Homo sapiens: one gene and its partner. The protein of the gene in region 2 interacts with the protein of the main gene of each other region in a pairwise test. Each region holds a gene or a part of one and is shown on either strand. Other genes may lie near its edges.

Region 1 (7,287 bases), on a different chromosome or scaffold from region 2:
AAAGTACTAAAAATTAGAAAGTTTGGTTTTTTTCTGTCCCACTCTGCCCTGCACCTCCTGACACCTTTCCCAGACCTACCAGTGTTCCCTTCCTCAAGAAGGTTCTGATAAACTCTTCCCATGGAATGGGGAGTGCTGAGGGTGTGAGTGCTCAGTGAAAAGAATAGTTGGCATCAGGGCAGAAGAATCTGAAAAGGGCAATGCTGAGCCCAAAGGGAGGAATTTTAGACAAATCAGGGCAGAGAGTTAGGTAGGGTTTTGCTCTCCCTTCTGCTCACTGGGGCAGAAGGTCCAGGGCCCTGTGCGTGTCTGTGCGGCCTCTGACCTTTCCCACTCCATTGCCTGGAATAGGTTGTTCTCTCTGACATTCTATCCCTTGAATTCCCCTCCAGGGCTGGGCTCTGAAGCAGACATGGGCCTGGACTCCACCTGGGAAATTCTTAAGGGAACAGGTGCTCAGCCAGGGCAAGAGCTCACCTGAAGTCCCAGGACAAGTTTTTGGCCTGGGAGGCAATGTCCTCTTTTCCTCAAGGGGGACTCCTGATTACGTCCTGATTATCCCACTGCCATGTCCCTCCTCTGCCCATGGCAGGAACAAGATATATATAATAGGTTGCCCAGGAAGCTCATGGGGGCAGCTCTCTTTCTCCTCCAGCCACACATAACATGCCTAAATCCCAGGTGTCCTCCATCACCACTGCTCTGTGGGGACTGAAGGCTCAGAGCCCTGCTCTCCCCAACTCTGTTCTTACTCTCTTGGGTTCCTCCCCTGGGGACTTCCTTGTACCCCCAAACTCCCAAACTCCCACCTTCCCCAACTCCCAAGCGATGAACCTGAGGCTCAGCCAATATGCCCTCCTCTTCCCGGGTCCACATATCCAATAGAACTATAGCCCAGTTAATTCTTCCTACACATCTGTTAAATCTGTTCATTTCTTTCTATCCAGGTCACATTCACCTCTCACCTGTGCCACTGATCTTCTTGCCTCTAATCACTCCTTTTCCAATCCTTTCTCCACATAGTGACAGCTTATGGGATCCTTCATAAGACAAAACTGACTAGATGATTCCTCTACTTAAAACCCTTTCCTGTCTGGGCATAGCGGCTCACACCTGTAATCCCAGCACTTTGAAAGGATGAAGTCCAAGGATCGCTTGAGCCCAGAAGTTTGAGACCATCCTGGGCAACATAGTGAGACCCAGTCTCTACAAAAAATTTAAAAATTAGCTGGGCATGGTGGCATGTACCTGTATTCCTAGCTATTTGAGAGGCTGAAGTAGAATAATCGCTTAGCCCAAGATTTGGAGTTTGCAGTGAGCTATGATGGCGCCACTGTACTCCAGCCTGGGTAGCAGAGTAAGACCACAGGTCAGGAGTTTGAGACCAGTCTGGCCAACATGGTGAAACCGTCTCTACTAAAAATACAAAAATTAGCTGGGCATGGTGGTGGGTGTCTGTAATCCCAGCTACTCAGGAGGCAGAGGCAGGAGAATTGCTTGAACCTGGGAGGCGGAGATTGCAGTGAGCTGAGATCGCGCCACTGCACTCCAACCTGGGTGATAGAGTGAGACTCAGTCTCCAAAATAAATAAATAAATAAAAATGTTTAAAAAAAAACATTTAAAAATCCTTCCCTCCCCTGGATCCTCATTGCCTTTGAAATACAACAAAGTCAAAAGTCAAAATTCCTTGATGCGGTTTTCACAGCCTTCCCTAATCTGGCCCTTGCCTACCTTTCAGTTTCATATCCTTAACAACAATAACAACAACAAAAACCGGCCAGGTGCGGTGGCTCACACCTGTAATCCCAGCACTTTGGGAGGCCGAGGCAGGCAGATCACCTGAGGTCGGGAGTTCAAGACCAACCTGACCAACATGGAGAAACCCCGTCTTTACTAAAAATACAAAATTAGCCGGGCATGGTGGCGCATGCCTGTAATCCCAGCTACTCGGGAGGCTGAGGCAGGAGACTTGCTTGAATTGGGAGGCAGAGGTTTCGGTGAGGCGAGATTACGCCATTGCACTCCAGCCTGGGCAACAAGAGCAAAACTCTGACTCAAAAAACAAACAAACAAAAAAAAACAATAACTTTTTATATCTGAGGTATCTACTAAGATCTAGCAGTTGTCATTTTCATCACAACGCTGCAAGTTAAGATCATGATTCCCTCTTCACTAGTGTGGATATTGAGGCTCAGAGACCTTAGAGAAGCAAGTGGTAGAGCCAGGATTGAAATCCACATCTATCTGCTAGGAAGCAATTTGCTCTACCATGGCTACTCCCATGCCAAGTGCTCACTAGAAACTTTGCTCCTTCAGGCTTGCAGCTCCCTGTCCGTACCCTAGCCATTGCAGCTCCCTGTCCGTACCCTAGCCATTCAGCGTGCTCAGCCACCACTCCTACCTCTCCTATTATCTCTACATGGCCAATGACCCCAGTCCTGCAAGGCTCAGGTCAAACATTGCCTCTTCTATGCAGCTTTCCTCAGTCAACCTCTTCAGCTGGAGTCTGCCTCTTCCACAGCTCTTGACCTTGCACTCCCCCGAGGCCCTGGTCCCTCTGTGCCTCACTATTTGTGTTCATGCCTTAAGAATGGATTTGAGCAGCACTCCAGTGCAAAAATCATGGGCTTCAGCCTCAGACAGATCTGGGGGTAAATCCCAGCTCAACCACTTACCCACCATGGGATCTTAGACAAGTGATTTCACCTCCCTCAGCCTCAGCTTTCTCATCTATGATATGGGGACACTTGTATTCCCTTGAAGAGTGGTTGGAAGGATTTAGAGACAATGTATGTAAAGTGTCCCAGGAAGGGCCTGGCACAGAGTGGGCTCTCAGGAAATGGTAACATTATCTTCCCCTCTGCGAGCCTATGAAGAGAGGATCCCCATACAGATCATCACTGTCTCCCACGAAAGGCTGCCTGGGGCTCATCACAGAGTTCAGGAAATGCTGGCAGCATGCCTGGGTGGTGGGAGGCCTAGGTCAGGTCCAGGGGGGAACATGTATGTACCACCCGATGCCCACTCTCTGTTGAAGGGTGGGGAAGTGGGTGGGAGGAGAGAAGGTGGCGTCCCCCAGAGCACCATCTCCCAGGAAACCCAGCCAGGGAGGCAGCTGCCATGGAAACTGCTGCTGTCACGTGTGCTCGTCACTCTAGGCTCCAGAGAGAAATTCTCAGGATCTATTTAAGAACTAATAAAATAATGATGGTCTTGCTCACCCTCACTGCCCCCCACCCCAGGCTTCTACTCTTTTGGCCTTCTTCCCTACCAGGCTCCTCCCTGCCTCTCCTGCACCCGCTTCCTTACCCTTCCTCTCCTCATTTCCTTCCCCTCTCCACCAGTAACTCTCTTTCCTTGCCCCTTTCTAGAACTGTCTTTCTCTCACATCATTTCTGTCTGCCAGTGTTTCTTCATCTCTCCCTGTGTCTCTGCTCTCCATGGCTCTGTCTCTTGGTCTTTCCTCCACAATCACAGGTGGCCATGCCCAGGGACGGGTCCTGTCCTCCTGGTCCCTGGTCCAGGCCAGTCCAGACCTGTCAAGCTCGCCCTGATCTGCTTGGATTGATCTGTCATCCCCTCTAGACTGCAACCTGAGTCCTGTTGGTGTCTCCGCCCCCACCCACAGCCTGGTACACTGCAGGTGCTCCACCACCAGCGGGTGGGTGTGTCAGAGCCCTGGGTGGGAGGGGAGTTGCGCTGGTTCAGACTTGGCCTGTTCTCTTTTCCTTTTTTTTTTTTTTTTTTAGTAAGCCCTCCCTGCCCCTCCCACCCCCAAATTTGATCCAAAGGAAATTGCTCAACTGTGACTGCCAGGGCGTTACCATGGTTACTGGGTAGCACTTGTGGCTATGGTAACAGGAAGCTGCCTGTTGTCTCGGCAACGAGCAAATTGGTAAGGGATGGAGTGGCCCCTGATTGGTGCAGAAGCAGAGCATTTCCTGAGGGGAGGGGGTCAGATCATCACCTTCTCAGGCCAGATGGGCATCAGTACCCCTTCCTCCATGAACGGGAAGGCCGCTGTTTTTCCCTCCTGGCACTCAGCTGCCTGCCCCCCAACAATAATTCCTCACCTCCCACGCACCCAGCTCTTGGCAGTTTACAAAGACCTTTTGCGTCCCCATTACCTCATGTGATCCCCACAACACCCATGAGAGGAAGGTGAGATGGGGATTCAATCATGAATTCACTCAGGGTGGTTGGGGGATGGGGATGTGGGGGCGATATATTGAAATCACCTAGGAGCGTTTTCAAATTATGCAATACCCCAACTTAAGAGCCTCATCTGGTTCCTGGGTGATTTTTATCTACACTTCCTCAGGAACCCCTGAATTAAAAGATGAAGTTGGTGGGAGCGGGGAAGGGATGGAAGGAGAAGTCAAGCTGCTTTCCAGGCTTATAGCTTGGGTGACTGGGAGGATCAGGTTGGGGCAAAAAAAAAAAAAAACAAATGAGCTCTCGTTTGGGTGTGTTGAGTGAAGGCGCCCGTGGGACTTTCTAGTGGGGATGTCCAGCAGGCAGCTGGTAACATGGCTCTGAAGCTCAGAGGAGAATGCAGGCTGGAGACACAGAGCTCTAAGTCATCCCTGTGTGGAGAGGAGCTGAGGCTGAGTGTGGATGAGACTATCCAAGAAAAGTAGGAAGAGCCAGACAAAAAGGGCTGAGAACGGCACCTTGGAAAACTCCAGCATCCTCAGGGAAGGGGACCCTAGGGAGGGGATGGAGCAGGTGAGCGTGGAGACTCTAGTGATACAGCAGCTTGGGAAATGTTTTCCTCATTTGAAAAATTGAATCTGGCCGGGCGCAGTGGCTCACGCCTGTAATCCCAGCACTTTGGGAGGCTGAGGCGGGTGAATCATTTGAGGTCAGGAGTTCAAGAATAACTTAGCCAACATGGAGAAACCCTGTCTCTACTAAAAATACAAAAATCAGCCGGGCCTGGTGGCACGTGCCTGTAATTTCAGCTACACAGGAGAAAAAGAAAAATTGAATCTGAGAAAAGGTGGCTTACTTAAAGTCATACAACCATTAAATGACTAGAGTTGAGGGCAGATAGCACTGAGTCTGATTCCCAGACTCTCATCTAAATGACACATAGCGTGATATTCTCCATTTTAGACATAAAACACAAATCTGCAGTATCAATTCTACCCTCCTTCCCAATCCTCTCATGCAAAGCCTTTAAGTAAGTCCAGAAGCCAAAGGGACAGGCCTCACATAGCCCCTGCCCAGAGCCCCAGGCAGAAAAGTCTCTTTAGCCGCTTCATTCCACCTTGTGCTTGCCACTAAGTTCCTGTCACCCATCCCTGCCAGTTTCAGCACCTTCTAAATTCCTGGGTTTAAGGAAGGAATCTTGGAGAAAATCTGTAATCCCAGTTTGGAAGTGGTAGAGTGCAGAGTTCAAAGGGGCTAGGGCTCAGATCCTGAGGAGTCCAGGGTTCGAGAAGCTGGGGGCTCCAGGACCAGGCAGTCACGCTGAATGGGTGTGTTGGTCCGATGTCTTTCAGATGAATCGTCCGATCCAAGTGAAGCCAGCTGCCAGTGAGGGCCGAGGAGGTAACTTCCCTGTCTGACCAACCTCAGGCTGCAACCCGTGTAAGGGAGGGTGGGCCCACACCTGGAGTCTGTCCTACCCATTTAGTATGAGAGCCTCCCTGGGTCAAGGGGACAGGTGGGGCTCAGAGTTGCTGAGCCCCAGAAATAGCTCAGCCTTCCCTGCTCAGACTGAGCAGGGCTGGGGTTCTGGGGAGCCCAGGCCCAGAAGAGGCAAGAAGGGCCTAAACAGATGCCAGTGATAGAGAAAGGGGGTTCTTGCCACTTACCCTTGGAGAGAGATCATTCCTGTTTTGCCACATGGAACTTTCAGGGTTTCGTTGTTGTTGTTGTTTTTAAGAATCAGGTGGGGGTTATTCTCCTTCTCCATATCCTTCTGATATCAGAAAACACAGTCCGTTTCGGATTGAGGCCATTCCTTCATTGTAATTGCCTAGCTGCTCATGGTAAAAGATAAGGCTGGTACGACAGACTTTATGGGCCATAGTAAGTCCTCTATGCTGAGGACCATGGAAAGCTCTGATAGCTACACTGTTTCCTGGTAGAGAAAAAACAGAGCTCCTTAAGAACAGGAGGTGGGCTGAGCACGGTGGCTCATACCTATAATCCCAGCACTTTGGGAGGCTGAGGTGGGTGGATCATTTGAGGCCAAGAGTTCGAGACCAGCCTGGGCAACATGGTGAAACCTCGTCTCTACTACAAATAGATAAATTAGCCGGGTGTGGTAGTGGATGCCTGTAATCCCAGCTACTCGGAGGCTGAGGCAGGGAGGCTGAGGCAGGAGAATCGCTTAAACCTGGGAGGCGGAGGTTGTAGTGAGCCGAGATCACGCCATTGCACTCCAGCCTGGGCAACAGAGCATGACTCTGTATCAAAACAAAAACAAAAACAAAAACAAAACCACATAGGACGGTTAGAGAGCCTGTGCTTTCTTCTAACCAGCTGGGTTCTGGCCAGCTTCCAAGCTGTAAAGGCAAGGCTGGATTCTGGTGTCAGTTCTTGGTGTTTTTCTCACCCTTGCATCTTAGATCCTTCCAGTGTATCAGCCTATAGCCCTCCCTGATGTCTGCTGACTCTTTATCTTGGGTAAGACTCTCTTCCTGTCTAACCCAAGATCAGCCATGGCTTTGCTAGCTGAAAGAAGCTGCCCGAGTTCAGGAACAGAATGGAACCCAATTGATATAAACATGTATTGAGTCCTACTAATTCTGTACCCCTCTCAGACTTCATGCTCAGTCTGAGAACCCACACACAGAGTTCTGGTGACTTTGTGGTTCCACTGTGAAGTTCGTTCCTCCAAGAAATACTTCCATTATCCTTTTAGATTCTCTGACCTCTGGTCTCTGATTCTTGATTTCTGGTCAAAATGTTATCACCTTCACCTTGTCTTGGAGAGATATTTCCAAGTTTCCTCCTCCATCCACACACACATTCTCCTTTCCCTTTTTATTCTTTCCAGTCAGGTTTTTGAGATGTTCCAGGCTGCATGCAAAACTTCATGTTCATGTAACCCAAGAATTTCTGCCTCTTGGGAAACTCTTTTATGCATCAAGGCCATTGTTGGCCAACTACTAAGCCCTGCCCACAACCATGAGCCAGTCCCACAGCTGAGAAGCCAACTAAGAGTATGTGAGTGAGCTGTGAAGCAGACAGGTTCAACCACACAACCAACATCTTCTGAGCAACTTACTCCACAGCAGGAATACAGATGTGAGCAAAGCAGACCTGGTAC
Region 2 (5,423 bases):
GGCGCAGTGGCTCAACACCTGTAATCCCAGCACTTTGGGAAGCCACAGTGGGTGGATCACTTGAGCCCAAGAATTCGAGACCAGCCTGGGCAACATAGTGAGACCTCATCTCTACAAAAAGTACAAAAATTAGCCAGGCATAGTGGCAGGCACCTGTAGTCCCAACTACTCAGGAGGCTGAGGCAGGATCACTTGAGCCCAGGAGAATGACGCTGCAGTAAGCCAGATCGCACCACTGCACTTCAGCCTGGGTGACAGTGAGACCCTGTCTCAACAACAACAAAAATTCTCATCCACAGGCCGGGCGTGGTGGCTCACGCCGGTAATCCCGCACTTCGGGAGGCCGAGGCGGGCAGATCACCTAAGGTCGGGAGTTCGAGACCAGCCTGACCAACATGGAGAAACCCCGTCTCTACTAAAAATACAAAATTAGCCAGGTGTGGTGGTGCATGCCTGTAATCCCAGCTACTCGGGAGGCTGAGGCAGAGAATCACTTGAACCCGGGAGGCGAAGGTTGTGGTGAACCAAGATAGCGCCATTACACTCCAGCCTGAGCAACAAGAGCAAAATAACTAAAAAAAAAAAAAAAATTCTCATCCACTTAGGTGTGATTTATGTGAAGCATGGTAGTTAATTCAGTCTACAAAGTTTTTTTTTTTTAAATGACGTTTATTGTGGATTTCAGCAGCTAACATTTGAAAGCAATGTCTGTGAGCAGAACATAAAACTTATTCTAGAGTGCTTAGCAAGGTCTCATGCTTGAGGAATTATCGTACTTGGAGCTTTTAATCAGCTACTGTTGGATTCGGCGAATCGATTGGATCTGCGAAGTCTGGGCATGAGAGCCCCACTCTCTCCAATGTTTATAGTCTCCTCCATGATGGTCACATTCCAAGATATACTGATACCCACGATATCCAGGATATTGGTAGCAAACCCAGCTAGGAAATTCAAAGTACATTTCATTATTAAAACTAATTAGGAATCTGGTTAATACCCCAAAACCTGAGCCTCTTTACTCAACACAATGGTATGAGATGCTTTTAGGCTTAGAAAAAATAGCCATCCTAAATGTGTCAGGCACTATTTGTAAGCATAATATGGCTATAGCTAGTTAATTAGCCTTAATCATCAAAACAGGTATAAGTAGTCAACGTAAATTCTTCCATAGAGGCATGTCTGGGGGAGATAAATCTGCAACCTAAAGTGGTAGTTGGTATAAAGAAATTGAGATTCAAAATTATGTAGAACTAGAATGTGACATCTATACCGATACGTATGAAATCTGATTAAAACATAACTATTGATGCAACCTCAGGAGTTACTTTGAAGTATATTCCAACCCTGTTTTTGTACTTACGCCCCACTTTGTATCTTCATGGAGCCGACTTCGTTGTTGAACCAGCCCATGGCTTGCAAGGAGGGGTAGTCGTCAGAGATCTCCCACTGGCGTCCAATAAAGTTTTCCTTCTCAAAGATGGTCATCTTAGACTCCTTATGATTCTGTAATTCAGAAATTGTTTTAAAATGTTTAGTACTAGTGCTATGGCTATCATTCTTCATGTTTTTCAAAATTGAAACACTTTTGGATTATACAAGGAAGCACATGATAATTTAAAAAGATTAAGGCAACAGATTTGTGAGAAAAAAGTTACCCATAATTTTGTTTATTCCAATTTAAATACCATAACATTTTGAATGTACAAATAACTGATATACTATTTTGGAACAATGAAGAGGATTTGACAGTGAGAAAAAGTACTAACAAAATGCAGCCAACCAAGGGATTAATATTCACTAATGTGAAAAAAGATCTCACAGATTATTACAAAAAGTAAGCCCAAATATGTATGTGTGCGCTTGCGTGTGTATGTGTGTTGTTGGATATAACCTGTATGTCCAGTAGGGGACATGAATACTACACAAGCATTAAAAAGACAGAGACTAACCTGTATGAACTTCAAAAATGGACAAAACTGTTTGGTAATAGAAAGTGGTAGGGGAGCAATTGAGTGGAAAGGGACACCAGGGAACTATGATGGAATGTTCTTTATATGGTTAGGGTGTTGGTTACATGGATCTATATATTTTTCAAAAACTCATGAGAATATTCACTTAGGGTCTGTGCATTTTACTGTATGTCAGTTATACCTTAGGGTGGGCAAATGAAATGTTTTTAAAAGTGAGATTGAAATAATTTCCAGACAGGCAACTATTTATTTGGATTAGAACTATTTAGGTTAACTTCTCCACCAGTTGAATTTTGGCAAGACTTTGAACCAAGATGAGATTATTAACCAAAATCACGAGAAACTCTCACATAGACTGAATATTTGGAAAGGTTCTAGCCCAACCTAACTCCTAATACAGGGATCATTTTCAACACACCCCTTAAGGTCATTCTGCTTTCTGCTTGAACTGTTTCCAAAGACCAGAAACATCCCAGCCTGATGCATTATTGAGTAATACTTAAGTGTTCAGAACAAGAAGATTATTATCAATCAGTGTAGATCGATACTGGAAGACTTGCCTATTTCGTCAGTCATTCCCACTTACTGAAAGGTTACTTCAGCATTTTCCTGTTTCTGCAGTAAAAATGTTACACAGATTGAAATTTAACTGGCCAAGGATTTACTTTTTGCTGCAGGGTAAGCACTTTCACTCATTTACTAGTGTTTCACAAGTTTACTGGGCTCTTGAGTATCCACTTATTGCCACTTGTAAGACCCTTAGTTTTAGCTTAAGGGAAGTACCACCTGGTGGAGAAAAATCAAATAGCAGGCTTAGAGAAGAAAGTGATGTTTTCTCTTTTTTTACTTTTGTCTTTTTTCCTGCCACATTCAGCATAACTGATGATAAATAGCATGAACGTCAGTCTGTCCACACCCTCTTGTCCCATCCCTCATATGCACGGAAGTGGAAATTTCAGAGACTCACAGCTGAACAGATGGGGCGGAAGGACATGAGACGCTCAATGTGGTAGGCATTACTCCCACTCCAGGCATCCCAGCGAGGGTATTCTCCTCTCTCCAGGATAAACTGTTGCCCACAGAAGCTGGTATGCTCATAACCAATCCAGCTGCCAAAGACATGTAGTGTTTGTTCATGGTGTTCAAAGCCTATATGGCCTTGGGGAGAAGGCATCTTTCGTTTTAGATAAGTCAATAGTGGGGTAAAATATCAAGCCAATCCCAGTAGAGCTGTACAAAGTAATTTGTCACAAGAGTTGAGGAATGAGTTGACAGGTATACTAAGCAGGTTAGTGAATGTAATATTTGTTTGGGGGTTATCACTGAAAAGGTCTATCTACTTCACTGGTCTGAGTGAAGTGTATTAGCAAAGCCAATCTAAAATTATATTTCCTGGCTGGGTGTGGTGTCTCACGCCTGTAGTTCCAACGCTTCAGGAGGCCAAGGCAAGCAGATCGCTTGAGCCCATGAGTTGGAGACCAGCCTGGGAAACATGGCGAAACCCCGTCTACAAAACTCAAAAATTAGCCAGGCGTGGTGACCCACTACTGGCAGTCCCAGCTATTCAGGGGGCTGAGGGTTGAGCCTTGGAGGTGGAGGCTGCAGTGAGCCATGATTGTGCCACTGCACTCCAGCCTGGGCAACAGAGTGACACCTTGCCTCAAAAAAAAAAAAAATTTTTTTTTCTTTTTCTCCAAATCACCTATTCTCTACCTGTTTCAGGATCTAGTGACTGTTGCAAGCTTGTCCAACCTGTTGCCCAAGGGCTGCATGCAGCTCAGGACAGCTTTGAACGCAGCCCAACACAAATTTGTAAACTTCCTCAAAACATTATGAGTTGTTTTTGTTGTTGTTAGGTCATCAGCTATCGTTATGGTATTTTATATGTGGCCCAAGACAATTCTTTCAGTGTGGCCTAGGGAAGCCAAAAAGATTAGACACCCCTGGACTATTGCTTTGGCTCAAGCCAAACCTGTTGGCTTCTTCTTAAGAAAGCACAGGGATGAACAAGCAACTGATGGATTACTAGTCTTTTTTCTTCCTGTGACTTGCGAGTTCTTTCTCCTAGTGCCCCATACCTGTACTTAAAACTTGAAACACTCAGCTCAGTTTTTCACAACTGGGTCTCAGTTAGTGATGACACCTTAAAGTGTTACATCTTTTAAAGGACTGAAGAGCTTAATTTTGGTGGCAAGCAACTTGTGGAAGCCTATCCACATGCAAGGCCAATTCTGCCTAGTCAAGGGTGAGTCTTTTCCTTAGGTATTTTCAGGCTAATGATAAAGGCCTCAACTACTCTGCCAAGAGTCAGAGGACAAAAATGAGAGGGTCTCCCTCACCAAGATTAACCATCAACAAGAAACTGCCTGAAAGATGAATCAGGAGCTAATATGTCTCTGGAGTCGTGGGGTTAAGGTTTTTTTTTTCATAAAGAAATTAGCTAACAGTGTCTGCTCTGGGATATGCAGGAGGAGAGTTAGCCATGAAGAGGCAGCCACTTGACACTTTCTTCTCTACCAATTTTCTGCAGGCAAGAAAAACTCAAGGGTCTTGTGGCTGTTCTGAGGGCACCCTAGGTAGCAGCCTGTGAGCTCCAGAAGCAAAATTTTGATTACTGCCACTGTCCCACCCCATTGTATGTATTTCTTTATCCAGCCCCTGAAATCTAGTACCAAGCCACTAAGAACCTCATGTTCCTTCCTTCTAGCTTTGGCTTACTAAATTATGCATGTAGTGATTTCTTTCGAGGCCTGTCTCCGAGAAATGACTAGAGCCTAGGGGAACATCCTTCTTCCCCTATCCCCACTCTATGGTCCCCTGTCTGAAGGGACCTGAAATAAGGGGCTGCGGTTCTGCGGAAGTCCATACTCACGCGCCACTTTCCACCTTCAGGGACCGGACATTATCAAAACTGCGCTCAGAGACATTTGGACAGGAGCTGGTGAACTCCATCCTCTTGCCCTGAAAGTTCTCCTGATCATAGATGGTTATCTGAAATGAGATTGAATGGCGCAAGAGAGCTAGAACATCAGGAAAAACAGAGGTCCAGGTCAACAGCTTAACTTCAGTCTGACTCTGTGCTTTCTGTTACCAGCTGTAGCCTGGGATGCCTGATGAGGTCTCTTCCAGTGTAGACAGGGCAGGAAGGGGTTTGAATTAATGCCACTGGTTGGTGTTCATTTGCCCAGAGTAGGGATGAGGTGGAGGGAGGATTGGTTTATGATAGAAATGGTCTGCCAGGGATAATATCTAGACCAATGGACAGGCCAAGGACTTATGGGCTCCCATTCCACCACAGTTCCTTCATAAGCATGGCCCAGAGGCCAGGATTCTGGGAGTCCCAGGAGCTCCTTATAGATTCTTAGCTTCTCCAGCCATACCCCCTATAGAAACCTAGAGTGTAAAGGAGAGTTATGGTCAACCCTTTTTGTACATTGAACTAAAACCTGGCTC

Evidence for each region.
Region 1: the proteins of CRYBA1 (region 2) and CELF6 interact in binary tests that used the Homo sapiens proteins (3 or more experiments, as listed by UniProt).

What each region holds. Positions count from the first base shown.
Region 1 is NC_000015.10:72,303,017-72,310,303, reverse strand, and holds part of CELF6 (CUGBP Elav-like family member 6), read left to right. Parts: intron 1-3,959; exon of another isoform or gene 3,960-4,163; intron 4,164-5,509; coding exon 5,510-5,558; intron 5,559-7,287. UniProt on the Homo sapiens protein: RNA-binding protein implicated in the regulation of pre-mRNA alternative splicing. Mediates exon inclusion and/or exclusion in pre-mRNA that are subject to tissue-specific and developmentally regulated alternative splicing.
Region 2 is NC_000017.11:29,249,720-29,255,142, reverse strand, and holds the end of CRYBA1 (beta-crystallin A3), read right to left. Parts: intron 4,962-5,423; coding exon 4,843-4,961; intron 3,080-4,842; coding exon 2,938-3,079; intron 1,504-2,937; coding exon 1,361-1,503; intron 942-1,360; coding exon 794-941; 3' UTR 649-793; downstream 1-648. UniProt on the Homo sapiens protein: Crystallins are the dominant structural components of the vertebrate eye lens.